Linked DNA regions of Homo sapiens: region 1 is linked to region 2. Evidence: fine-mapped expression QTL. Tissue or cell type: pancreas. Region 2 holds a variant in brackets; the other region holds the start of a gene. All regions are shown on one strand. Distances are between the middles of the regions.

What was found.
Region 1: it holds the start of UGDH, and the variant in region 2 is fine-mapped to the expression of UGDH in pancreas (GTEx, PIP 0.90).

What each region holds. Positions count from the first base shown.
Region 1 is chr4:39,523,777-39,534,321 of GRCh38, reverse strand. It overlaps UGDH (UDP-glucose 6-dehydrogenase), which reads left to right and starts at 6,883. Exons shown (of 12, transcript NM_003359.4): 1 at 6,883-7,039. UGDH-AS1 (UGDH antisense RNA 1) reads right to left here and starts at 6,483. Exons shown (of 5, transcript NR_047679.1): 1 at 5,984-6,483; 2 at 2,192-2,353. RefSeq lists an enhancer at 5,999-6,058 and silencers at 6,439-6,738, 6,989-7,168.
Region 2 is chr4:39,551,573-39,567,999 of GRCh38, reverse strand. SMIM14 (small integral membrane protein 14) reads left to right here. Exons shown (of 5, transcript NM_174921.3): 4 at 11,430-11,572; 5 at 15,842-16,427. The coding sequence ends at 15,874. All of the region lies in intron 2 of UGDH-AS1 (UGDH antisense RNA 1), which reads right to left. Among named protein-coding and RNA genes, the nearest start is that of UGDH-AS1, 32 kb to the right of the region's middle. The variant C/T (reference allele first, on the strand shown) is at 9,302.

The DNA of each region.
Region 1 (10,545 bases), 31 kb after region 2:
CTCACATCCAGGTCACACTGATGCAAGAGGTGGATTCCCATGGTCTTGGGCAGCTCCACTTCTGTGGCTTTGCAGGGTAAAGCCTCCCTCCAGGCTGCTTTCATAGGCTGGCATTGAGTGTCTGCAGCTTTTCCAGGCACACGGTGCAAGCTGTCGGTGGATCTACCATTCTGGGGTCTGGAGAACGGTGGTCCACTTCTCACAGCTCCATCAGGCAGGGCCGCAGCGGGGACTCTGTGTGGGGGCTCCGACCCCACATTTCCCTTCTGCACTGCTCTAGCAGAGGTTCTCCATGAAGGCCCCACCCCTACAGCAAACTTCTGCCTGGGCATCCAGGAATTTCCATATATCTTCTGAAATCTAGATGGAGGTTCCCAAACCCCAATTCTTGACTTCTATGTACTCGCAGGCTCAACACCACATGGAAGCTGCCAAGATTTGGGACTTCCACCCCATGAAGCAGCAGCCCGAGCTCTATGTTGGCCCCTTTCAGTCACCACTGGAGGAGCTGAGACGCACGGCACCAAGTCCCTAGGCTGCACATAGCATGGGGACCCTGGGTGCTGCCCACAAAACCACTTTTTCCTCCTAGGCCTCTGGACCTGTTGATGGGAGGGGCTGCCATGAAGACCTCTGACATGTCTGGGAGATATTTTCCCCATTGTCTTGGATATTAACATTCGGCTCCTTGGTACTTATGCAAATTTTTGCAGCCAGCTTGAATTTCCTCTCAGAAAATGGGATTTTCTTTACTATCACATTGTCAGGCTGCAAATTTCCCAAACTTTTATGCTCTGCTTCCCTTATAAAACTGAATGCCTTTTTTTTTTTCTTTTTTTTTGAGACAGAGTCTCAGTCTGTTGCCCAGGCTGGAGTCAGTGGCATGATCTTGGCTCAATGGAACCTCCACCTCCCGGGTCCAGGCGATTCTCCTGCCTCAGCCTCCCGAGAAGCTGGGACTACAGGCGCACACCACCATGCCAAGCTAATTTTTGTATTTCCAGTAGAGACAGGGTTTCACCATATTGGCCAGGCTGGTCTTGAACTCCTGACCTCTTGATCCACCCTCCTCGGCCTCCCAAAGTGCTGGGATTATAGGTGTGCACCACCGCACCCAGTCAAAACAGAATGCCTTTAACAACACCCAAGCCACCTCTTGAATGCTTTGCTGCTTAGAAATGTCTTCCACTGGCCAACATAGTGAAACCGTCTCTACTAAAAATACAAAAAATTAGAAGGGCGTGGTGGCGGACGCCTGTAATCCCAGCTACTCGGGAGGCTGAGACAGAATTGCTTGAACCCAGTAAGCTGAGATCAGACCATTGCACTCCACCCCAGGCGACAATGCAAGACTCCGTCACAAAAAAAAAAAAAGAAATGTCTTCCACCAGATACCCTAAATCATCTCCCTCAAGTTCAAAGTTCCACAAATCTCTCGGGCAGGGGCAAAATGTCACCAGTCTCTTTGCTAAAACATAACAAGAGTCACCTTTGCTCCAGTTCCCAACAAGTTCCTCATCTCCATCTGAGACCACCTCAGACTGGATCTTATTGTTCGTATCACTATTAGCATTTTTGTCAATGCCATTCAACAAGTCTCTAGGAAGTTCCAAACTTTCCTACATTTTCCTGTCTTCTTCTGAGCCCTCCAAACTGTTCCAATGTTTGCCTGCTACCCAGTTCCAAAGTCACTTTCACATTTTCAGGTATCTTTTCAGCAACACCCCACTCTACTGGTACCAATTTACTGTATTAGTCCATTTCCATGCTGCTGATAGACATACCCAAGACTGGGCAATTTACAAAAGAAAGAGGTTTATTTGGACTTACAGTTCCACGTGGCTGGGGAAAGACTCACAATCATAGGGCAAGGAAGAGCAAGTCACATCTTACATGGATGGCAGCAGGCAAAGAGAGAGAGCTTATGCAGAGGAACTCCTTTTTTTTTTTTTTGGAGACAGAGTCTTCAATTTTGCCCAGGCTGGAGTGCAGCGGTGCAATCTCGGCTCACTGCAACCTCCTTCTCCCAGGTTCAAGCAATTCACTCTGCCTCAGCCTCCCTAGTAGTTTGGATTACAGGTGCCCACCACCATGCCCAGCCAGAACTCTTTTAAAAACCATCAGATCTCATGAGACTTATTCACTATCACAAGAACAGCACAGGAAAGACTTGCCCCCATGATTCAATTACCTCCCACTGGGTTTTAAGATGAGATGTGGGTGGGGACACAGCCAAACCATATCACAGCTACTGTGAAAGCAGAGTTGGAGGGTCACTTCAGCCTGGGAGGTTGAGGCTGCAGTGAGACGTGTTCATGCCAATGCATTCCAGCCTGGGTGACAAAGTGAGACCCTGTAAAAAAAAAAAAAAGAAAGGAAAGAAAGGCTTATGTTTTACCCAAACAATACCTTACTATGACTGGCTCTGTGTCCCCACCCAAATCTCATCTTGTAGGTCCCATAATTCCTACATGTTGTGAGAGGGACCCGGCAGATGATAATTGAATCATGGGGGCAGGTCTTTCCCGTGCTGTTCTTGTGATAGTGAATAAGTCTCATGAGATCTGATGGTTTTAAAAATGAGAGTTTCCCTGCACAAGTTCTCTCTTCTCTTGTCTGCTGCCATGTGAGACATGACTTTCACCTTCCACCATGATTATGAGGCTTCCCCAGCCATGTGGAACTGTAAGTCCAATAAACCTCTTTCTTTTGTAAATTTCCTAGTCTTGGGTATGTCTTTATCAGCAGCATGAAAAAGAACTAACACAGTAAATTGGTACCAGTAGAGTGAGGCACTGCTAAAAAGATATCCAAAAATATGGAAGCAACTTTGGAACTGGGTTAACAGCCAGATGTTGGAACAGTCTGGAGGGCTCAGAAGAAGACAGGAAAATGCAGGAAAGTTTAGAACTCCCTAGAGGCTTGTTAAATGGCTTTGACAAAAATGCTGATAATTATATGGACAATGAAATCCAATCAGGTGGTCTCAGATGGAGATGAGGAACTTGTTGGGAACTGGAGCAAAGGTGACTTTTGTTATGTTTTAGCAAAGAGGCTGGCGGCACTTTGCCCCTGCCATAGAGATTTGTGAAACTTTGAACTGGAGAGAGATGATTTAGGGTATCTGACAGAAGAAATTTCTAAGCAGCAAAGCATTCAAGAGGTGACTTGGGTGCTGTTAAAGGCATTCAGTTTTTAAGGGAAACAGAACATAAAAGTTTGGAAAATTTGCAGCCTGACAACATGACAGAAAAGAAAATCTCATTTTCTGAGGAGAAATTCAAGCTAGCTGTAGAAATTTGCATAAGTAAGGAAGATCCGAATGTTAATCACCAAGACAATGGGGAAAACGGGCATGTCAGAGATCTTCATGGCAGCTCCTCCCATCACAGGCCTGGAGGTTTAGGAAGAAAAAATGGTTTTGTGGGCCGGGCCCAGGATCCCTCTGCTGTGTGCAGTCTAGGAACTTGGTGCCTTGTGTCCCAGCTGCCCCAGCTGTAACTAAAAGGGGCTGAGGCATAGCTTGGGCTATTGCTTCAGAGGGTGGAAGCCCCAAGCCTTGGCAGCTTCCACTTGGTGTTGAGCCTGTAGGTACACAGTAGTCAAGAATTGAAGTTTGAGAGTCTCCACCTAATTGATACAAAAAGCAGATAAACAGGCCAGGCATGATGGCTCATGCCTGTAATCCCAGCACTTTGGGAAGCCAAGGCAGGTGGATCACCTGAAGTCAGGAGTTTGAGACCAGCCCGGCCAACATGGCAAAACCCTGTCTCTACTAAAAACACAAAAATTAGCGTGATGTGGTGGTGCGCACCTGTAGTCCCAGCTATTTGGGAGGCCTAAGCAGGAGAATCTTTTGAACCTGGGAGGTGGAGGTTGCAGTGAGCTAAGATTGCACCACTGCATTCCAGCCTGGATGACAGAGCGAGACTCCGTCTCAAGAAAAAAAAAACAAAAAGCAAAAAACAAAAAACCAGATAAACAGAGAAAAATTGAACTGCCATTAGAGAAGACGGGGAGATGTGGGAACCCAGAGCCTTGTCTTTAACTTCCTACTGATTCTCTATCCTCACAGATTTCTGACACACTACCAGAGGATTCAGGGCTCCATGAAACATAATTTGAAAATAACTAGCCTACCTTGGCAGTTCTCAAAGTTTGTAGTATCAAGACCCCTTGGCATGTTTAAAAATTGAAGACTCAAAGAAGTTTTTTTCATGTGGATTGTAACTATTGGTATTTACCATATTAGAAATGAAAACTGATAAATTATATATAAAAGATTAATTCCTTAAAATTGACAATAAGCCCATTACATGTTAACATAAATATCATATTTTAATGAAAAATTACTATATTTTAAAAACAAAAGATAAGATTGGCATTGTTTTACATTTTTGTAAATCTCTAATATCTGACTTAAAAAACAGCTTAATTCTATTTGCTTTGATAGCACATTATAGTCTCCACAAAACTTCATTGTACACTTCTGAGAGAACAAGAGTGAAAAAAGCAAGTAACACATGAAAACTTTTTGACCTCATGGATCCCAGAAAGAACCTCGGAGATTGTCTACAGTCCCCAGCTCACATTTGGAGAACCTCTGTCCTAAATCCAAAGGTCCATTCTAGCTGGCACTGAAAATTGACTTAATTTCTGAAATCCTATTAACCGTTTTGAAGAGTCTGATTCTACCAAAATACTAAAAAAGAATGTGAGGTGAATACTAAATAGAAAAATGTTGAATTCAAAATGAAGGGACTAAGATAAGTGGTTTTTATTACAAAGCAAACTGTATTAGATAACTTAAATCTATGTATGTTCAAAAAGATGTACTTGTCATATCTAGTGCAATTACTTGTTTACATATCTCTTCTACCCAACCTGTGAGCTTTGCAAGAAGGAAATGAGTCTTTTTTGTTTGGTTATTTTTCTGAGACAGTGTCTCGTTCTGTTCCCCAGGCTGCAGGGCAGTGGTGTGATCTCGGCTCACTGCAACAGGGAGCCTCCTGAGCAGCTGGGATTACAGGTGCCCACCGCCTCACCCGGCTAACTTTTTGTATTTTTAGTGGAGCCGGGGTTTCACCATGTTGGCCAGGCTGGTCTGGAACTCCTGACCTCAGGTGATCCGCCCGCTATGGCCTCCCAAAGTGCTGGGATTACAGGCGTAAACCACCGTGCCTGGCCAAAGGAATTGAGTCTTAATCCCTTTTGCATCTTCAGTCTTTAGGATAACGTCTGACACACAACAGGCATTAAATATTTGTTGGATGAATGAACTGAACTGCATAGAATGCAGAAAGCCTACATATACTGGCCAGGCACAGTGGCTCACACCTGTAATCCCAGCACTTTGGGAGGCCGAGACGGGCGGATCACCTGAGGTCAGGAGTTTGAGACCAGCCTGGTCAACATAGCAAAACCCGGTCTCTATTAAAAATATAAAAATTAGCCGGGCATGGTTGTGGGCGCCTGTAATCCCAGCTACTCGGGAGGCTGAGGCAGGAGAATCGTTTGAATCTGGAAGGAGGAGGTTGAGGTGAGCCGAGATCGCACCACTGCACTCCAGCCTCGGCGACAAGAGGGAGACTCCGTCTCAAAACAACCAACCAACAAGCCTACATATCCTGCCACACGTGCTACAATCCACAGCAAACTGTTTCATCCACATTCAACCACTTTCTTAAAGTCACCATCATGATCCTATCAAGAAAACCGTAATTTATATGGTATTTTAATGTGCCTTTATAAATTACTAATCACTTTCTTCATGATGTATGTTAAAATGGCTTATGTCACCTGATGTAATCCTTAATGAGGGAAATAAAAGGCCATGATTATGCCTGGCTTTTTTTCTTATATGTTAGATTTGAGTGTTAAAATGACCTCGAAGCGGCGAAAGAAAGGAACGGAACTGCCCTCCACATTAAAAATGAGCAGGCTCCATAGGTTAATTTTACTCTTCCTCACGCACGGCACTTACATGTTGCAAACTCTCTGCTCCACAGCACGCACAGACATCCCAAATCCCGGATTGGGCCTGAGGAACATCTCTGCAAAGAGCGCCAGGAGGGCGTGGGGGTCCCGCCTCTCTCGCCAGGGACCAGGGAGTGGACACTCACTGGTCCAGTCATGAGGAACTCAGCATCCTCCTGACGGGAGGCGCCTCTTTCCCAGAAGCGGTGGGTCAGGAGGAATCTGACTAAACCCTGGGTTGCCGGCCCGGAGGGCGCGGTTGACCCCGGGGCCTCGAGGTTGTGGGCGAGGAGTAATCCGCCCGCCGAGACCGACCCGCAGATCCAGGAGACCGAAACCCGAGGGCGGCGCTCCAGGGTGCTGAGGAGACCGGAAAGGCGGCCAGGACCTTCCGGTCGCCTCGGCCCACCACCCACCCAGTGTCCGCGCAGCCCTAAAGCCTGGCAGACGCGGAGCGCACGCGGCCTTTGCCTCGGCCAGGACAGGGCAGCGGGGAGAGGGCTGCTAGACAACAATTCTTGACCCCTCCTCGACCCACGACCGCCAGGTAGGCGCGCAAAGCTCCTACACCTGCGGCGCGCCCCCGTCCCCTGGTCCAGCGGACACGCCACGCACGCAGCCCCGCCCAGCGCCGCTCGCGGTAGGGGCGGAGCCGCTGAGCTGGCCAAAGCGGATTTGCCCAGCTAGGCCAGGGGCGGGGCAGGCCCTCCCAGCCAGGACCAGCCCCAGTCTCCCCGCCCCTGAGCCGTGAAGGAAATAGGGACCTGGCCCTGGGCCTTGTGTAGCGGGAGGGGGAGCTAGGAAGCAGCTGAGGGCAGAATCCAGGAGGGCCTGGCTGCGGGGGAATGAAGCCTCCGCCTTCGCAGGCAAAAGCCTTTAAATACGGGCTCAGGCCCGGGACTCAGAGTGTAACGCGTGGCAGCCTGAGGGAGGGGCGTGCGCCGAGAGGGAGCTCAGATCGAGCGGGGCGCGGGTGGAGAAGCTGCGGCGGCGCGGCCCGTAGGAAGGTGCTGTCCGAACGATCGGGATAGGAGCGGTCCCTGCGCTTGCTGCTGGGAAGTGGGTAAGCGCCGCTCCCAGGCTGGCCCCGCCGCCCGGGCGGGATGCTCCCAGGTCTGGGCGGGATGTGGAGGGAGCGGGGCTGGGGTGTGCGCGCTGCTCCCGGTCGCTCGCTGCGCTGGGTCCCGGGCTTCCCGTCTCACGACCTTCGTCTCTTTGGGGCTTAGGGCGGGAACCGCATTTTGGAACTGCTGTCCTGGGGATGTGGTCGTCTGGGCTTCTTATTCAAGACTCGTGAGTCTTCCAGCCCCTTCTCTTTCTGCCTTTACCCACTTTCCTGACTTGGATGAGATTTCCCTGCCGCCTCCAAAGCCGAACGCCCACCACAGGAAGCGGTTCTCTCGTTGGGGACCTCATTTTGGCCGCAGAGTCGTAGTCTTTTGTTTGTGTTTAAGAGTCTGCTCACCTGAGGGGCTCCTGCTTTTCTCATGCCGCCCCTCTTAAGAAACCAAAGAGAAACGAAGCCAGAAAGCCCTCTTGAGAGCAAAATACTAAGACTGCCGTGATATCTGTCCGGGATGTCCTGGAATCCATTGTTGGCCCCCTACACCACAGAATTGCTCTGTTTGATGTCGGGGAAGGCCTTTCCTGGGTGCCTCGGGAGACCATGTTTGTGTGAGATCTTGAAAAATTATACGTCCTATAAATATATAGGAAGATAACTTAGTAGGGTTAGGAATTCTAGTATAGAGAAAAGAGGGGTTCGCTGGTAGGGATCTATTCATGGGCATACAGAGCAGTAGCTGTCTATCGACAGACCTCAAAGACACAGTGAGCCTTTGAGTTTCTTCAAATCCCTTAAGAAATGGAGAACAGTAGTCTTTCTTCAGGGGGGTTCTGGAAATGAAAGAGCTGACTGTCTGCTCTGAGATGTGCTTATTAGTGGCCAGGATCCAGTTTAAGGTAAGGGGTAGACAACCCTGATTGAAAAGATCTCATTTCTTCTCCCGTTGCTGTACTCCTTTTTCTAACAAAATCTATAACTGGATAAGCATAATCCATCTTCCTTCTTGTTTACTTCCACAGCTTTACATGATAACCCTTAGACATAAAATTAATACCGGCTTTCTTACTGATTAAATATTTTTCTCTGGTCAGGCATCTTTTACTGTTTAATTTCTGGAAATGATTAAAATGTGTGAAGCTGATGTATCCAACTATAATGCCCATCGTTAGCTCCTGGGTACCTATGCAAAATATGCTGTAGAGAGCTGGGGCTAGAAGGATTATATTCCGTTTAGATTGTAGTAGGGCATTTGTTATTTGTTAGTGACCCCTTCTGGGTTGGAATGTTTATTTGAATTTATGAAATTTTACATGAAGAGTAGTTTTGGAACGGTTTGGTTTGTTGTGACTCTCCCAAAATACAGAGGTAAAAACTCATTTCAAAATAACCCATTTAATAAGGAAACACTCCTATGTCTCTGACAGCAGAATAGAGGGCCAGAGGGTACATAAAAGTAGAAATAGAAAATGGGGGCCGGGCGTGGTGGCTCACGCCTGTAATCCCAGCACTTTGGGAGGCCGAGACGGGCGGATCACGAGGTCAGGAGATCGAGACCATCCTGGCTAACATGGTGAAATCCCGTCTCTACTAAAAATACAAAAAAAAATTAGCCGGGCGTAGTGGCGGGCGCCTGTAGTCCCAGCTACTCGGGAGGCTGAGGCAGGAGAATGGCATGAACCTGGGAGGCAGAGCTTTCAGTGAGCCGAGATTGCGCCACTGCACTCCAACCTGGGCAACTGAGCGAGACTACGTCTCAAAAAAAAAAAAGAAAAAGAAAAGAAAATGGGGCTGGGCGCAGTGGCTCACGCCTGTAATCCCAGCACTTTGGGAGGCCAAGGTGGATGGATCACCTGAGGTCAGGAGTTCGAGACCAGCCTGACCAATATGGTGAAACCCCGTCTCTACTAAATATATAAAAACTAGCTGGGCGTGGTGGTGGGCACCTGTAATCCCAGCTACTCGGGAGGCTGAGGCAGGAGAATTGCTTGAACCCAGGAGACGGAGGTTGCAGTGAGCCGACATGGTGCCACTGCACTCCAGCCTCGGTGACAGTGAGACTCCGTCTCAAAAAGAAAAAAGAAATAGAAAATGGAGTTGGCAGACATCTGTGTCATGCAAAGTGTGTCACTAACACTATGTCAAACTCCATGTTAAAGCTTATTGAAGATTTTATTGAAACTTCCAAGTGAGCATTTATTTGGACTTGCACAGATTGTACATCAGCCTTTTCATTGATTCTCCCATTGTCATCGGTAAGCCGTATTTCATGGGAAATAGCAAGGCGAGAATACCCAAAATAAAGCTTGTGTAAAACACATCCAGTTCTGTGATACAAGTTCACCTGCCATCAGTAGTCTATCCCAGCTGATGTATGTAAAGCAAGTTGAAATGTGGTCTCACAATCAAGGCAGATAAGAAGTAACTCTGGGGAAACATGCTGAAGTTCTTTAGGTAACTCAAAAAAAGAACTTGGCCAGATGCGATGGCTCACACCTGTAATCCCAACACTTTGGGAGGCTGAGGCAGGTGGATCAACTGAGGTCAGGAGCTTGAGACCAGCCTGGCCCACATGGTGAAAACCTGTCTCTAGAAAAAATACAAACATTAGCTGGACATGGTGGCGGACACCTGTAGTCCCAGGTACTTGGTACTTGGGAGGCTAGGTGGGAGACTCACTTGAACCTGGGAGGCGGAGGCTGCGGTGAGCCCAGATTGTGCTGTTGCACTCCAGCCTGGGCAACAGAGTGAGACCTTGTGTCAGAAAAAAAAAAAAAAAGTTGATAGTATTCTGGTCAATTACTGCAAAAATACTATGATCGGCAATCTGAACTAAAGCTATTTACACAGAAGTCTTCATCTCAAAAAGAGACGCCCTTGTGGAGAGTTACTCATTCATTCAATTAATAATCATTGAGAGGCTGCTATTCTAGGAGTCAAGGATACAGCAGGGAGCAGCAGCAAATAACTGTTAGCCTGGCTGTGCCTTATTAAACTATGAACTCCTTAAGCCCAGGAGCTGCAACGAGTAGACACTGATTCTACATTTAATAAATGTGTTAGCAGAACCTGTCCTGGTTGAGATTAAGAGTAAAGGCTGCCCTAATAACCTTTTGGCTAGGAGATTAAGTGGTAACCCTAAAAGATCCTCTGGTCCAACATTACTTTGAGATTCTACTCTTTAGGTATTCTAGATATACTGGGTTTAATTAAGTGAAAAAAGCCAGGTGTTAATAGTATATATGGTATTCTATTGAATTTAGAAAGACAAGATTATTAGAATATATATGTATATTTACTTGTAGCTGGGAGGATATACAAGAAAACGGATTGCTTGTGTGGAAGCAAAGTAGGGGATAGCAAAGTAGATAAGGAAGGGGTTGGAGTGAGACTTCTCATGTGTACCTTGTTACAACAGATTTAATTTTGAACCATATGAACATTATTCAGAATCAATAATTTTTTTTTTTTTTTTTGAGATGGAGTTTCGTGCTTGTTGCCCAGGC
Region 2 (16,427 bases):
GGCCTGTATGTTCTTATTTATACAATCTATTTGGGCTTTAACATTTGGCACTGAATATGGTTTGGGGTGTTTTTGTTTGTTTTTTGTTTTGTTTTGAGACAGGGTCTCACTTTGTCACCCAGGCTTGAGTGCAGTGGAGCAAACAGGGCTCACTGAATCTTGACCTTCCAGGCTCAGTAATCCTCCCACTTCAGCCTCCTGAGTAGCTGGGACTACAGGAGCATACAACCATGCCCAGCTAATTTTTTTTTTCCTTTCTTTTGAGACGGAGTCTTGCTCTTGTTGCCCAAGCTGGAGTGCAATGGCATGATCTCAGCTCACTGCAACCTCCACCTCCCAGGTTCAAGCGATTCTCCTGCCTCAGCCTCCTGAGTAGCTGGGATTATAGGCGCCTGCCACCACACCCGGCTAATTTTTGTATTTTTAGTAGAGATGGGGTTTCGCCATGTTGGCCAGGCTGGTCTCGAACTCCTGACCTCGTGATCCGCCCACCTCAACCTCCCAAAGTGCTGGGATTACAGGTGTGAGCCACCATGCCCGGCCTAATTTTTGTATTTTTTGTAGAGACAGGGTTTTGCATGTTGCCCAGGCTGGTCTCGAACTCCTGAGCTCAAGCAGTCCACCTGCCTTGGCCTCCCAAAGTGCAGGGATTACAGGCATGAGCTGCCACACCTGGCCCATTTTGAGTACTTAGCATACAATTCTTAGCCTTCTGCTTCTTCCTGATAAAGTTGTAATCTGAGAAATTATCTAGTTTCAGCCTTTAATAACTAAATCTTCTCCATATTTCCCATGTCACATTTTTTTCCTATTGTCACATTGCGGCTTCCTTTTTTTTTTTTTTTTTTTTTTTTTTCTTTTTTTGAGATGGAGTTTTGCTCTGTCGCCCAGGCTGGAGTGCAATGGCGCAATCTCGGCTTACTACAACCTCCACCTCCTGGACTCAAGCAGTTCTCCTGCCTCAGCCTCCCAAGTAGCTGGGATTACAAGCGTGTACCAGCATCCCCAGCTAATTTTTGTTTTTTGTTTTTTTTGAGATGGAGTCTCACACTGTCACCAGGCTGGAGTGTAGTGGTACAATCTCAGCTCACTGCAACCTCCACCTCGCAGGTTCAAGCGATTCTCCTGCCTCAGCCTCCCGAGTAGCTGGGACTACAGGTGCACGCCACCACGCCTGGCTAATTTTTGTACTTTTAGTAGAGACAGGGTTTCACCATGTTGGCCAAAATGGTCTCGATCTCTTGACCTCATGATCCGCCTGCCATGGCCTCCCAAAGTGCTGGGATTATAGGCGTGAGCCACCACGCCTGGCCTAATTTTTGTATTTTTAGTAGAGACAGGGTTTCTGTATGTTGCCGAGGCTGGTCTTGAACTCCTGACCTCAGGTGATCCACCCACCTCAGCCTCCCAAAGTGCTGGGATTACAGGCATGAGCCATTGTGCCTGGCTGCATTGCGGCTATCTGCTGTCTTCTTTCTCGGTGCGTCTGTCTGTCCTCCAGACCTCTTAACTTTTATCCTTGGAATGCTCCAGGACTTAGCCCCTGGATTATTTCCTTTTCTAGACATTCACTCACTTGGTGATCTCATCTGGTCTCATGACTCATTACTTGTATGCTGATGACTGTCTTTTGGGCATTTCCACTGGGATGTCTAACAAGGCACCTCAAATTCAACATCTTCAGAATTTCTGCTTCTCTTGAGATCCTTCCTATAACAGTTAATGGCAGTTCTATCCTTCTGAGACTCATCCTTGGCTTCCCTTTTTCTCACACTGTCCAGTCATCTATCAGCAAGCACTATCTTGAAGATACATCCAAAATTCTACCACTTCTCACTATCCCACTGCCTCCTCCCTGTTCTAGGCCATCATCATCTCGTATGTTAATAGATTATTGCAACAGGTTCTTAACTGTCTGTATTAGTCAGTCTTCACACTGCTAATTTAAGACATACCCAAGACAGGGCAATTTACGAAAGAAAAGGGTTTATTGGACTTACAATTCCACATGTCTGGGGAGGCCTCACAATCATGGCGGAAGGTGAAAGGCATGTCTTACATGGTGGCAGTCAAGAGAAGAGAGCTTGTGCAGGGAAACTCCCCTTTTTAAAACCATGAGATCTCGTGAGACTTGTTTACTATCATGAGAAGAGCGCAGGAAAGGCCCGCCCCCCATAATTCAATCACCTCCCACCAGGTTCCTCCCATGACATATGGGAATTGTGGGAGTTACAATTCAAGATGAAATTTGGGATGGGACACAGCCAAACCATATCACTGTGTTTCTGTTTCTCGTTTTTCAAAACACAACAGATGGAGTGGTTCTGTCAAAATGAGAGTCAGATATCATCTGCATTTTGCTCAGAACTCTTCAGTGGTGTCTGGGCACAGTGGATCACACTTGTAATCCCATTTTAGGAGGCCAAAGCAGGCAGATCACTTGGGCTCAGGAGTTCAAGACCAGCATAGGCAACATGTTGAAATCCTGTCTCTACAAAAAATATAAAACTTAGCTAGGCGTGGTGGCCTGTGCCTATGCCCCAGCTACTCTGGATGCTGAGTTAGGAGATCACTTGAGCCTGGGAGGTTGAGGCTGCAGTGACTGTAATTGAGCCACTGCACTCCAACCTGGGTGACAGAGTGAGACCCTGTCCAAAAAAAAGAAAAGCCCTCTTCAGTGGTTTTCTATTTAATATGTAATAGAAGCTTATTATGACCTATAAGGCCAACATGATCTGAATCCTGTTACTCTTTTGATTTAATCTTTTTCTTTTCTTTTCTGGAGACAAAGTCTTACTCTGTTGCCCAGGCTGGAGTAAAGTGGTGCAATCATGGCTTGCTGCAACCTCAACCCCTTGGGCTCAAGCAATCCTCCCACCTCAGCCTCCTGATTAGCTGGGACCACAGGTGTGTGCCACCACACTTGGCTGATTTTGTTTGTTTTTTATTTTGTAGAGATAGGACCTCATTATGTTGCCAAGGCTGGTCTTGAACTCCTGGCCTCAAGTGATTCTCCCACCTCAGCTTCCCAAAGTGCTGGGATTACAGGCGTGAGCCACCACACCCAGCTTAATCTTTTTCTTATATCCCACCTCACTATACCACCAATCCCAGGTCACTTCACTTCAGCCACATTGGCCTCCATGAACATCCCACAGGCTCCTGAATCAGGAGTTCTCGCTGTTCCTTGTGCCTGAAATGTGCTTCTTTCGGATAATCTCACAACTGACAGCCTCACTTTCTTTACATTTTCACTCCAGAGTGCCTTCTTAGTGAGGCTTCCCTTAGCCCCCTGCTTAAAAGTCATGTATTTCATTTTTAATAGAATCCTTTAAACAAAAGAGAGGATGCTTTCCATTCAGGTTATCTTTATCTAAAAAACGCTAATCTGAAATAACACTATGGGGCACCCTCGCAGAACACAATATGAAAGTATAGGTTGAATATCCCTTATTTGAAATGCTTGGAGCCAGAAGTGTATTCAGTTTCAGATTTTTTCAGATTCATTTACCAGTTGACCATCCCTAACCTGAAAATGTGAAATGTTCCGATAAGCATTTCTTTTGAGCATGATGTCAGCTCTCAAAAAGTTTTGGATTTTGGAGGATTCTAGATTTTTAGAGTAGGAATACTCAGCCTGTAGGAGAATAACAGATCTACATTAGGGAATGATAGAGATCACCCTTGACTCAGCTTGAAAACTGGTAGCTGTGCTTAGGATAATGTAATTACTGTATAGGACCAAAAACTACAGGGTTAGAGCATACCGGTGTATTGTCCACTTTCACTGCTGTTCTGTTTTTGCTTTCCCCAGCGGAAACCTATATAAGTTTATACAAATAATCTTCTGAGGATGGGCCAGCTCTTAGAGCCTCTGTCTCTACCTTTTCATCCTCTTGGTATCCAGCTAAGTTAACAGCTTCATTGTGAATATTCCATTTGGCATTTTATTTGTGAGGCAGGGGAATTGCTTGAAACTGGGAGGCGGAGGTTGCAGTGAGCCAAGATGGTGCCACTGCACTCCAGCCTGGTGACAGAGCAAGACTCCGTCTCAAAATAATAATAATAGAAGAAGAAGAAGAAGAGGAAGAGAAGGGGAAGAAGAAGAGGAGGAGGAGGAAGAGGAGAAAGAAAAAAGAAAAAGAAACTTGAGGCTCAGGGATTATATACCTAAGAGGTGGTACAGTCAAACAGCTATGAGATGGTCTCAGTTCTTAAAAAGTTAATTAGGAGAGACGGGAAACCATTCCTTCAAACTAGAAATGCTATACTAGTCCAGAGAAGGCAGAGGAAAAAGTGGGTGGAGGAAATGGAGATTTTTATGGAAGAGGGATGTAGGTTATAGGTGAATAAATGGAGTTAGTTGTAAGAACATGCCAGACAGGGAAATAACGAGTACCCCAGGAAGACTGAATTTGCATAGTTGGCAAATGCTGCCAGACAAGTTCGCATTCAACTGTTGCATCAGATTCATTTGGAAAGCTTTTAAAAAATATTGTTGGCTCCTGATCCCACCCCGAAGCTGCTCCTGAATCAGATGGTCTTAGGCAGTGCCTTAGAATCTGTGGTGTTGATACTGTCACAGGCTATTCTGATGCATAGCCAGGCCAGGGAATCCTTGGCTAGAGAAAGAAGAGGGGCCGGGGGCGGTGGCTCATGCCTGTAATCCCATCACTTTGGGAGGCTGAGGTGAGTGGATCACCTGAGATCAGGAGTTCGAGACCAGCCTGGTCAACATGGTGAAACCCAGTCTCTACTAAAAATACAAAAAATTAGCCGGGTGTGGAGGCGAGCACCTGTAATCCCAGCTACTTGGGAGGCTGAGGCATGAGAATCACTTGAACCCGGGAGGCAGAGGTTGCAGTGAACAGAGATTGTGCCATTGCACTCCAGCCTGGCCAGCAAGAGTGAAACTCCGTCTCAAAAAAAATAAAAAAAAGAAGAGGTATGGGGGTGACTAGAGCAGAGGATGCATTTTCTGAGAAGTGGTAAGAGGTAAGATTAGATGAGTAAGGCCCAATCATATGAGGAAAGGCTGAGCTAAAGAACTTAGAGTTGCTGGGCACAGTAGCTCATGCTTATAATCCTAGCACTTTGCGAGGCTTAGGTGGGTGGGTTGCTTGAGCTCAGGAGTTAGGGACAAGCCTTGGCAACATGGCAAAACACCGTCTCTACTAAAAATACAAAAATTAGGGTCAGGTGGGGTCGCTCATGCCTGTAATTCCAGAACTTTGGGAGGCCAAGGTGGGCAGATCACTTGAGCTCAGGAATTCGAGATCAGCCTGGGCAACATAGTGAGACCCTGTCTCTAAAAAATAAAAAAAGTTTTAAAAATATAAAAAAATTAATTGGGCATGGCAGCATGCGCCTACAATTTCAGCTACTCAGGAGGCTAAGGTGAGAGGATCACTTGAGCCTGGGAGGCAAAGGTTGCAGTGAGCTGTGATTGTGCCACTGCACTCCAGCCTGGGAGACAGAGTGAGACACTGACTCAATAAAAACAGAAAAACCCCAGAGTTGAAACAGTAGGCAGTGGAAACTGAGTTACCACATTGATCAGCAGAGATGTGTTAAGAGCAGAGGGGATTTTTTGTTTGTTTGTTTGTTTGTTTGTTTGGGGGTTGAGACAGGGTCTGTCTCTGCCACCCTGGCTGGAGTGCAGTTGTGTGATTACAATTCACTGCAGCCTTGACCACCTGGGCTTAAGTGATCCTCCCACCTCAGCCTCCCGAGTAGCTGGGATTACAGGCCTGCACCACCACACTCAGCTAATTTTTTAATTTTTTTTGTAGAGACAGGGGTCTCACTATGTTGCCCAGGCTGGTCTCAAACGCCTGGGCTCCAGGGATCCTCCTGCCTCGGCCTCCTAGAGTGCTGAGATCACAGCCATGAGCCACTGTATCCAGCCAAGAACAGTTTTAAGCAGACTTTTCTGGCAGCAGTAAGCAAGAAGGAAAAGCTGCAATAGGAACCAAGCTAGGAGATAGTTAAGGGAACTACGAGTCATATTACTATTGTGAGATTCTAAAAAAGAAGTGGACATTACTATTTGGTTGTTGTTGTTGTTGAGATGGAGTCTCACTATGTTGCCCAGGCTGGAGTGCAGTGGCACGATCTCGGCTCACTGCGACCTGTCTTCCGGGTTCGAGCAATTTTTCCGCTACAACCCCCCAAGTAGCTGGGATTACAGGTGTGCACCACCATGCTTGGCTAATTTTTGTATTTTTAGTAGAGATGGGCTTTGGTAGAGATGGCCAACACCATGTTGGCCAGGCTGGTGTTGAATTCCAGACCTCAGGTGATGCACCTGCCTTACCTTCCCAAAGTGCTGGGACTACAGGTGTGAGCCACCGTGCCCGGCGTGAGATTCTAAAAAAGAATCAGGGATCCTTTGTCTAGAAATAAGAATTAGTAAACTTGGAATCTGAGGTTTAACTCTCTTAAGCTTCAGAATTTTTTACTTGCAAAGAATATTAAAAAGTCATGGCTGGGCATGACTACTGACTGACACCTGTAATCTCAGCTCTTTGGGAAACCAAGGCAGGAGGATTGCATGAGGCCAGAAGTTCAGCACCAGCCATTTTGCCCAGGCTGGTCTTGAGCTCCTGAGCTCAAGGGATCTTCCTGCCTTGGCCTCCCAAAGTGCTGGGATTACAGGCATGAGCCCCATCAGGTCTGGCCTTAACTATTATTTAAAATAAAAATAATAGTATAGGTTGAATATCCCTAATCTGAAAATTTGAAGTGCTCCAAAATCTGAAACTTATTCAGTGCTGACATGATGCTCAAAGGAAATGCTCATTGGAACATTTCAGATTTTGGATTTTAGGATTAGGGCTGCTGAACCAATAAGTATATTGCATATATCCCCAAATCTGAAAAAATCCGAATTCTGAAACACTTGTATTCCCAAGCATTTCACACAGGGAAACTCAACATGTATTTGCTTTTAAAAAAAAAGAAAAAAAAATCACTCTGGAAACAATATAGAGCACAGGGGAAGCAGGAGTAGATATAGGGAGATCCCTTAAGAGGCCACTGCAATAGACCAGATAAGAGGTTATGGTAGCTTGAGCAGGTGGGGACATGGAGCTAAAAGTGGGCAGATACAAGTGATATTTAGGAGGAAAAATTGCAAGAAACTTCATGATGGATTAAATACAGGGCTGTTGAGAAAGAAAAAAGGTGTTTTCTTAGGTTCTGCCCTGGGCAACTGGATGAACAGAGATCCAGTTTGGTAGTTGGGGTGGAAGGGGGTAGGGCGGGGGAGATGCTCATGATTTTTGTTTGGAATACTAAAGTACTGAATATGTTAAGTGGAAGGTGGGATTTCTGCATTTTGTTTTGTTTTGTTTGAGACGGGGTCTTGCTCTGTCGCCAGGCTGGAGTGCAGTGGCGCGATCTCAGCTCACTGCAACCTCTGCTTCACGGGTGATCTCTTGACCTCGTGCTTCCTGGATTTCTGCATTTTTAAGAAGTTTTCAGTTGACTCTGATATATACCATAGTTTAAGAACTATTGATGTTGGCTGATTGCGGTGGCTCATGCCTGTAATCCCAGCATTTTCGGAGGCCAAGGCAGATGGATCACCTGAGGTCAGGAGTTTGAGAACAGCCTGGCCAACATGGTGAAATCCCAGCTCTACTACAAATAAAACCCAGGAGGCAGAGGTTGTAGTGAGCGGAGATCGCGCCACTGCACTCCAGCCTGGTGACAGAACGAGATTCCATCTCAAAAAAAAAAAAAAAAGAAAAGAAAAGAACTGTTGATATAAAGAAAAAGAGAATTATTGATGAAGGAGTGTCCAACTGTTAGACAATGGTAGTGACACAGAAGACAATGGAAGAAAGTGTTTGTTTTTGTTTTTGTTTATGTTTTGAGACAGTGTCTGGCTCTGTTGCCCAGGCTGGAGTGCAGTGGTGCAATTACAGCTCACTGCAACCTCCACCTCCTGGGCTCAAGCCATCCTCCCACCTCAGCCTCCTGAGTAGCTGGGACCGCAGGCACACACCACCACACCCGGCTATTTTTTTTTTTTAATTTTTTGTAGATACGGGTTTTTGTCATGTTGCCCAGGCTGGTCTCAAACTCCTGAGTTCAAGGGATCTGCCCGCCTTGGCCTCTCAAAGTGCTGGGATTACAGACATGAGCTGCCACGCCCGGCCTGTTTAGCTGTTTCTAGGGAAGTGACTGGGTTTGGAACAGAGGCTACATTCCTATCCATCCTGCTCTTAGGCCAGCTCAGCTCTTTTTAATATATATTTTGTACTAATTTGTTTGCCATAAGACTTCGTTGCAGCAGGGCCAGCGCAACTCTTAACTTGACTTTGTCCGCTTTTATCACTAGCCTTTTGGCCTCAGCAGTGCCACCAATTCCTTCCCTTTTGTGGAATTGAGCCCTGGACCCACTGACCCAATGCAGTGTATCAGATTAGTTTCAACATCTTATCTGGATTTCTTTTACTTTTTCCTGAGGCAAGGAGATCAAAACCAAACAGCTGTGGTCTTGACAAGCTGTTTTAGTAATCACCTAGGGATACTACATTTTCCTCTAGAAATCTAATCTATAATTTTTATTTCTTTTTCTTTTCCTTTCTTTTCTTTTTTTTTTTTGACAGGGTCTTGCTCACTCGCCCAGGCTGGAGTGCAGTGGTGTAATCTGAGCTCACTACAACCTCTGCCTTCTGGGTTCAAGCAATTCTCGTGCCTCAGCCTCCTGGGTAGCTGGGACTACAGGCTCACGCCACCCCACCCAGCTAATTTTCGTAGAGATGTTGCAGTCTCACCAATGCACCTTCATATATTGGTTTCTCTTGTGAGGTATCACCCTGAGTTCTTTGTCTCGCCTCTAAAATGATTAAGGAGCATGGTCACAAGGGTGAAGTTGGAGCGAAAATGTAATAAGCAAAAGGAGAAAGCTCTCTGCAGAGAGGGGAGTCCAAGTGGATAGCTTGGTTACAGCTGAATGCAAAATGCTTTTATAAGAAACTGCAGCCAGGCGCGGTGGCTCATGCCTGTAATCCCAGCACTTTGGGAGGCCGAAGCAGGCAGATCACGAGGTCAGGAGTTTGAGACCAGCCTGGCCAACATGGTGAAACCCCATCTCTACTAAAGATACAAAAAGTTAGCCAGGCATGGTGGCATGTGCCTGTAATCCCAGCTACAGGGGAGACTGAGACAGGAGAATTGCTTGAACCCGGGAGGTGGAGGTTGCAGTGAGCTGACATGCCATTGTATTCCAGCTTGGACGACAGGGCAAGACTCTGTCTCAAAAAAACAAACAAAAAAAAGAAACTGCTCT[C/T]CTCCTTGTAACTGATTGAGTAATTTTTCTTTTTCGAAAAGCTGTCTGTGCAACTCCCTTTTTCCAGCTGTGGGATTGTTTCTAAGCACAAAGCACAGCTTCTCTTCTTTGTATAACTGGGTTTTTTTAGGTAAGCCCACTCCGCCCTATGCAAGTTCCCACGGAGCCCACTGTGTATATGCCTGAAAAGGGGAGGAAACTTTTTCCTGGGAGCTCACTGATTGTACAAAGAACAAAAAGGCTTGTTTGCTTTACTGGCTGCTTATCTGTCCAGGCTTATCTGTGCAGCTGCAGCAGCTGTGATTTTTCAGGCAAGCACTTCTAGGGGCCCAGCCTTAACTGTTTACCTAATGGATTTTTCCTTTTCTTCTCCCTCAGAGATGGGGTTTCACCATATCGCCCAGGCTGGTCTCGAATTCCTGAGCTCAAGCAATCCACCCATCTTGGCCTTCCAAAGTGCTGGGATTACAGGCGTGAGCCAGTGCACCTGGCCATTTTTATTTCTGAAAATTGAGTTCTCTAATATACTTCAATAAAAAATCTACGTTTCATTTATTAGAAATTTGTTAACCTCATATCATGGGTCAGGCACTGTGCTAGGCACTTGTTATTTCAAATTAAATAAGACGTGGCTATGTCAAGGAACCAGGAAAAACTGATGCCTGTATACGCACATACATCCCTGTCTAGCATTTTTCTCTTGATAAATAGAAAAAATTGATAGAAGAGAAAAATTGATAAAATTTTAAAATATCTAGATCTGAATTCAACTCCTTTGTGTGAAAAAGAAGGTCAAATTAATCTCTTTGGTTGAGACTGTAATTCAAGGGGTCTTTTAATGTATATATTACGCAGCCCAGATGTCCCCTTTCTTTTTCATGATGCCTCTGTAATTAAGAAGCAGATTTTTCCCCCCAAAGGAGAGTGTTTTTTCTGTGGTCTTAACTTGGATTCATATGGATTCGTGGCTTTGTGGGTTCTTAAACCTTCCACAATTATATACAAAATTGTGGAATTTGGTATACATGAGTGCTTTTCATATTTATTTTTAATCCAGAATGGATCAAAAAGAACAATCATGAAGGATGTAGGTGCCAGACACAGGGCAGAAGGTAGCTAGAAAAGTAGATCTTAGGGAAGTTAGGGCCCCTAGCCTCATTAATCTACAAACATGGCATGGCCGGCTTGCCTTGCAAGACCTCAGTTGAAGACCCCATGAATTCTTAAAATGGAAAGAGTTCTTAATTTTTATCAAATTCTCAAATGATTCTGTTACCCCAAAATATTAAGAATTATTATACTATTAAAAAATGTGTTAGAGACTAGTCCAGGCAACATAGTGAGACGTCGTCACTACTAAAAATTTTAAAAAAAATTAGGGGTGTGGGGCAGGACACAGTGGCTCACACCTGTAATCCCAGCCCTTTGGGAGGCCAAGGCAGGTGGATCACCTGAGGTCAGGAGTTCGAGACCAGCCTGGCCAACATGGTGAAACCCCGTCTCAACTAGAAATACAAAAATTAGCTGGGCATGGTGGCGCATGCCTGTAATCCCAGCTACTCAGGAGGCTGAGGCAGAATTGCTTGAACTTGGGAGGCAGAGGTTGCAGTGAGCCAACATTGTCCCACTGCACTCTGGCCTTGGCAACAGAGTGAGACTCCATCTCAAAAAAAAAAAAAAAAATTGTTAGAGACCAGCCCAGGCAACATAGTGTCTCTACTAAAAATAAAAATTAAAAATTAGGTGCATGGGGCATGGTGGCACACACCTGTAGTCCCAGCTACTCAGGAGGCTGAGGTGAGAGGATCCCATGAACATAGAAGGTTAAGGCTGTAGTGAGCTATGGTTGTGCCACCGCACTCCAGCCTGTTTGATAGAGCAAGACCCTGTCTCAAAAAACAAAAACAACAAAAACTTACTAAGTTTTGGTTTATGACTATTTAACATCATTTACTTTTTAGATGTTCTCACTGGGGGAAAGGGAAATTGAAGATATAATATGTACTTTTGTAATTTATCAATACAATTTTTATATTAATACAGTAATTGAAACTGACATTTAAACATTAGAATTTGTTTTTACTTTTAACAATATTGTGAGCATGCTACATTTTTTGTTTGTCTTTAGTACCGGGACCCTCTGGTGATAATGGCATCAGTGTTACAATGATCTTGGTAGCCTGGATGGTTATTGCATTGATCTTGTTCTTACTGAGACCTCCTAATCTAAGAGGATCCAGCCTACCTGGAAAGCCAACCAGTCCTCATAATGTAAGTGTTGCAGATTTTAAATGCTTTTTGGGTAAGGGAATGTATGTGGCCTGGGGCAGGGAAGGACTTGGTTTTGACTAAAACACCTAAATTAGTTAAATTATATTTAACTCATAGAGTATTCTACCTATGTAGTTCTATTAAATATTGCAATTCCAAGATTTAATTGACAGCTTAATCTTTATGGAGTTAAATGCAGAAAGAAGCACAGACCAGAAGCCCAAAATTAATTTGAAAATGAATTCCAATCCTTTTTTTTTTTTTTCAGACAGGGTCTTGCTGTGCCGCCCAGGCTGGACTGCACTGGTGCGATCTTAGCTCACTGAAGCCTCCACCTCCTAGGCTCCCACCTCAGCCTCCCAAGTAGTTGGGACCACAGGCATGCACTAGCACACCTGGCTAGTTTTTTGTATTTTTTTGTAGAGATGGGGTTTTGCCAGGTTGCCCAGGCTTGAATTCTAATCTTTACTCACATGAGAAGCATCAAAAATAATCCATTTCATAATCCACAGCAATATTGCTCAAGTCTCAATCCTCCACTACCCAGTTCTGTCCACCTCACAGTTGATCCCTTGCCTCTCATGCTTCCAGCCCCTAAACTCTTAGTAGCTTTAGTTGAAATGTTTGACCCCCTTCTGTCCTAGCTATTCAGTAGAGACACTGAGCCTGTCTTATTTTATTTTCCTCATTTTCCCATCCTATTTCTCTCAAACCCATTTTCCATTTCTGTACCACAGTAAATCAGCTGAGCTGGCAAAAGGAGAGGTCGGAATCATTCATGTTGATAAATCTTGATAGTCATGATTACAACCATTTTTAGAACCTTCTAAATTAAAACTATGATAAAGTGACCCAATAGGGAGTTTTCAGGACTATCTTTAAGAGAACCTCTGTTGGCCAGGCACTGTGGCTCACGCCTGCAATCCCAGCACTTTGGGAGGCCAAGGGGGGCGGATCACCTGAGCTCCGGTGTTCAAGACCACCCTGGGCAACATGGTGAAACCCTGTCTCTACTAAAATACAAAAAATTAGCCAGACATGGTGGCATGCGCCTGTAGTCTCAGCTACTCAGGAGGCCGAGGCATGAGAATCGTTTGAGCTCAGGAGGCAGAGGTTGCAGTGAGCCAAGATCACACCACCACACTCCAGCTTGGGCTACAGAGTGAGACTATGTCTCAAAAAAAAAAAGAACCTCTGTTAAAGGATTCCTTTTAATCCTTTTCAGAACCAGTATTTATGTTTTTTTTTTAACACTGAATTTGAATATTATCTCTTTAAAAATATTTCCATGAGGCCGGGCGCGGTGGCTCATGCCTGTAATTCCAGCACTTTGGGAGGCCAAGATGGGCGGATCACCTGAGGTCAGGAGTTCGAGACCAGCCTGGCCAACATGGTGAAACCCTGTCTCTAGTAAAAATACAAAAATTAGCTGGGCCTGGTGGTGGGCACCTGTAATCCCAGCTACTCGGGAGGCTGAGGCAAGAGAATTGCTTGAACCCAGGAGATGGAGGTTGCAGTGAGCCAAGATCGTGCCATTGCACTCCAGGCTAGGCGGTGAGAGTGAAACTTCGTCTCAAAAAAAAAAAAAAAAAAAAAATTCCATGAATTTGCCAGTTACCTCTATTTAGCCATTCTACAAATGTATACATATTTCAAAACATGTTGTATATGACAAATATATACAATTTTTATTTGTCAATTTAAATAAATGTTAAAATTTATAATTAAAAAACTATAAGGTAATAGAGCATCAAAAAAAAAAAAAAAAAAAAAGGAAAATTTCCATGATAGATTTGCTTGTTTTTGTTGTTTTTTTTTTTGAGATGGAGTCTCACTCTGTCCTCCAGGCTGAAGTGCATTGGTACAATCTCAGCTCACTGCAGCCTCTGCCTCCCAGGTTCAAGTGATTCTCCTGCCTCCACCTACCGAGTAGCTGGGATTACAGGTGCACGCCACCACATCTGGCTAATTTTTGGATTTTTAGTAGAGATGGGGTTTCACCATGTTGGCCAGGCTGGTCTCAAATTCCTGACCTCAAGTGATGTGCCTGCCTCGGCCTCCCGAAGTACTGGCATTACAGATGTGTGTCACCACACCTGGCTAATTTTTGTATTTTTAGTAGATACAGGGTTTCGCCACGTTGGCCAGGCTGGTCTTGAACTCCTAACCTCAGGTGCTGTGCCTGCATTTGCCTCCCAAAGTGCTGGTATTACAGGCATGAGCCACCATGCCCGGCCAGATTCACTTGTATACCAAATTATCCCACTAATTCTCTTTTCCAACCTTTACCTTGTGGAATTCCTAAAATAATTGTTTCTTTTCTCCAGTGTTGTGGTGTTGATATCAGAAGTTCAGTTAGACTCATTTTTTATATAAGAGAAAGCAAATGTGCAGTGTTAATTGGTCAATGTTTTGCTTTGTTTTTTAAGGAATAGAACATTTAGATATGTAGCATAGAAAGAAAAAAAATCAAAACGAAAAACATACACAAAAAAGATACGTAGCATGCTAACTTTAAGAAAGAAGGCATTATAGACCAGGCGCGGTGGCTCTCACCTGTAATCCCAGCACTTTGGGAGGCTGAGGCGGGCGGATCACCTGAGGTCAGGAGTTCAAGACCAGCCTAGCCAACATAACCAAACTCCGTCTCTATTAAAAGTACAAAAATTAGCCAGGCATGGTGGCGCGTGCCTGTAATCCCAGCTACTTGTGAGGCTGAGGCAGGAGAATTGCTTGAACCCAGAAGGTGGAGGTTGCAGTGAGCTGAGATGGCGCCATTGCACTCCAGCCTGGGCAACAAGAGCGAGACTCCATCTCAAAAAAAAAAAAAAACCGGCATTATTAGCACTATATAAAAAGCCTTACATTTATTTTTATTTTTTCTTGGAGAAGAGAGTATTTATAAAACAGCTTGCATATTGTCTTGATAAAGTGTTTATTCCTTAGCCTTCTTTCTTACTTTCTTTGTATAGCTTTGTTACTTTCATATCAAAGAGTAAATTCCTCAATGTTTGGAGCTAAAGAAATAGAACTCTTAATAACCTGACTTAGAAATCATTACAGTGGGCTGGGCACGGTGGCTTACACCTGTAATCCCAGCACTTTGGGAGGCTGAGGCAGGTGGATCATTTGAGGTCAGGAGTTGGAGACCAGCTTGACCAACATGGTGAAACCCTGTCTCTACTAAAAATACAAAAAAATTAACCAGGTGTGGTGGCACATGCTTGTAATCCCAGCTACTCGGGAGGCTGAGGCAGGCGAATCACTTGAACCCGGGAGGCGGAGTTTGCAGTGAGCCGAGATCTCACCACTGTACTCCAGCCTGGGCGACAGAGTGAGACTCTGTCTCAAGGAAAAAAAAAAAAAAACTATTAAAATGACAGAAATGCAAGATTACCCTCTCCTGGACCTTAATTCATTGTAGGCCAGTGTTTCTAGGAATAGTAGTTCCACTATCTTAGGAATAAGTAAGAAAATGTGTTGAGACTAATTCCAAGGAGAAATATTGATCACCCCCAACTCGGGCGTCATGTATCATTTCAGGGTAAATAAATAAAATCTTGAGAATCTTAAAAACTCTGATCTTTCCTTTACAGTTCACTTGCTTTCTATTGCAAGTTAACAAAAGTCAATTCCAAGTGGTTTAAAACAAGTGGCTTCATTGATTTACACGTCAAAAAAATTCAGAGGTAGGGTCAGTGTTAAGAAAGTTTCAACAGTGTCATCAAAGACCTAGTTTCTTTCCTCATACTAACAACTTCATTCCAAGATGGGCTCCCCTTAGGGTTATAGGATGACTACCAGAAGCAACTGCAGCCACATGCATCCTCGTAGACATTCAGTATTGAGAAACAAAAGTCCCTAGCTTCATTTTAAATATACAGTACTTTGCTTAGCCAATCGACTTTAGCAAGAGGGATGAAGATATTTTCATAGGTTTGAAGATCACTCCTGGGGTTGGCAGGAGTGATAACATCACTGTTGTACAAATTCCCTCTCTCTTCCATTCTACAGGGAAAAATGAGACAAATGGTGGAAAATCACAGTGTTATTTAATCTAGTGTTCCCTCATGTAAAAACATATGAAAAGTCCAAATAAGCATATATTTGGGATGGGATGGTTGGGGGCATTGCTGCTCAGTTGTTTCTCTATGTGTTAGATTGGTTGCACTGGGATTTAATAAGTCAATTTTTAAAAAAGTAATAAATTTTAAATTTTTTTGAATTTTTAAAAAGTCAATTAAATAATTTATTTCTTTCTAATGCCAGGGACAAGATCCACCAGCTCCTCCTGTGGACTAACTTTGTGATATGGGAAGTGAAAATAGTTAACACCTTGCACGACCAAACGAACGAAGATGACCAGAGTACTCTTAACCCCATTAGAACTGTTTTTCCTTTTGTATCTGCAATATGGGATGGTATTGTTTTCATGAGCTTCTAGAAATTTCACTTGCAAGTTTATTTTTGCTTCCTGTGTTACTGCCATTCCTATTTACAGTATATTTGAGTGAATGATTATATTTTTAAAAAGTTACATGGGGCTTTTTTGGTTGTCCTAAACTTACAAACATTCCACTCATTCTGTTTGTAACTGTGATTATAATTTTTGTGATAATTTCTGGCCTGATTGAAGGAAATTTGAGAGGTCTGCATTTATATATTTTAAATAGATTTGATAGGTTTTTAAATTGCTTTTTTTCATAAGGTATTTATAAAGTTATTTGGGGTTGTCTGGGATTGTGTGAAAGAAAATTAGAACCACGCTGTATTTACATTTACCTTGGTAGTTTATTTGTGGATGGCAGTTTTCTGTAGTTTTGGGGACTGTGGTAGCTCTTGGATTGTTTTGCAA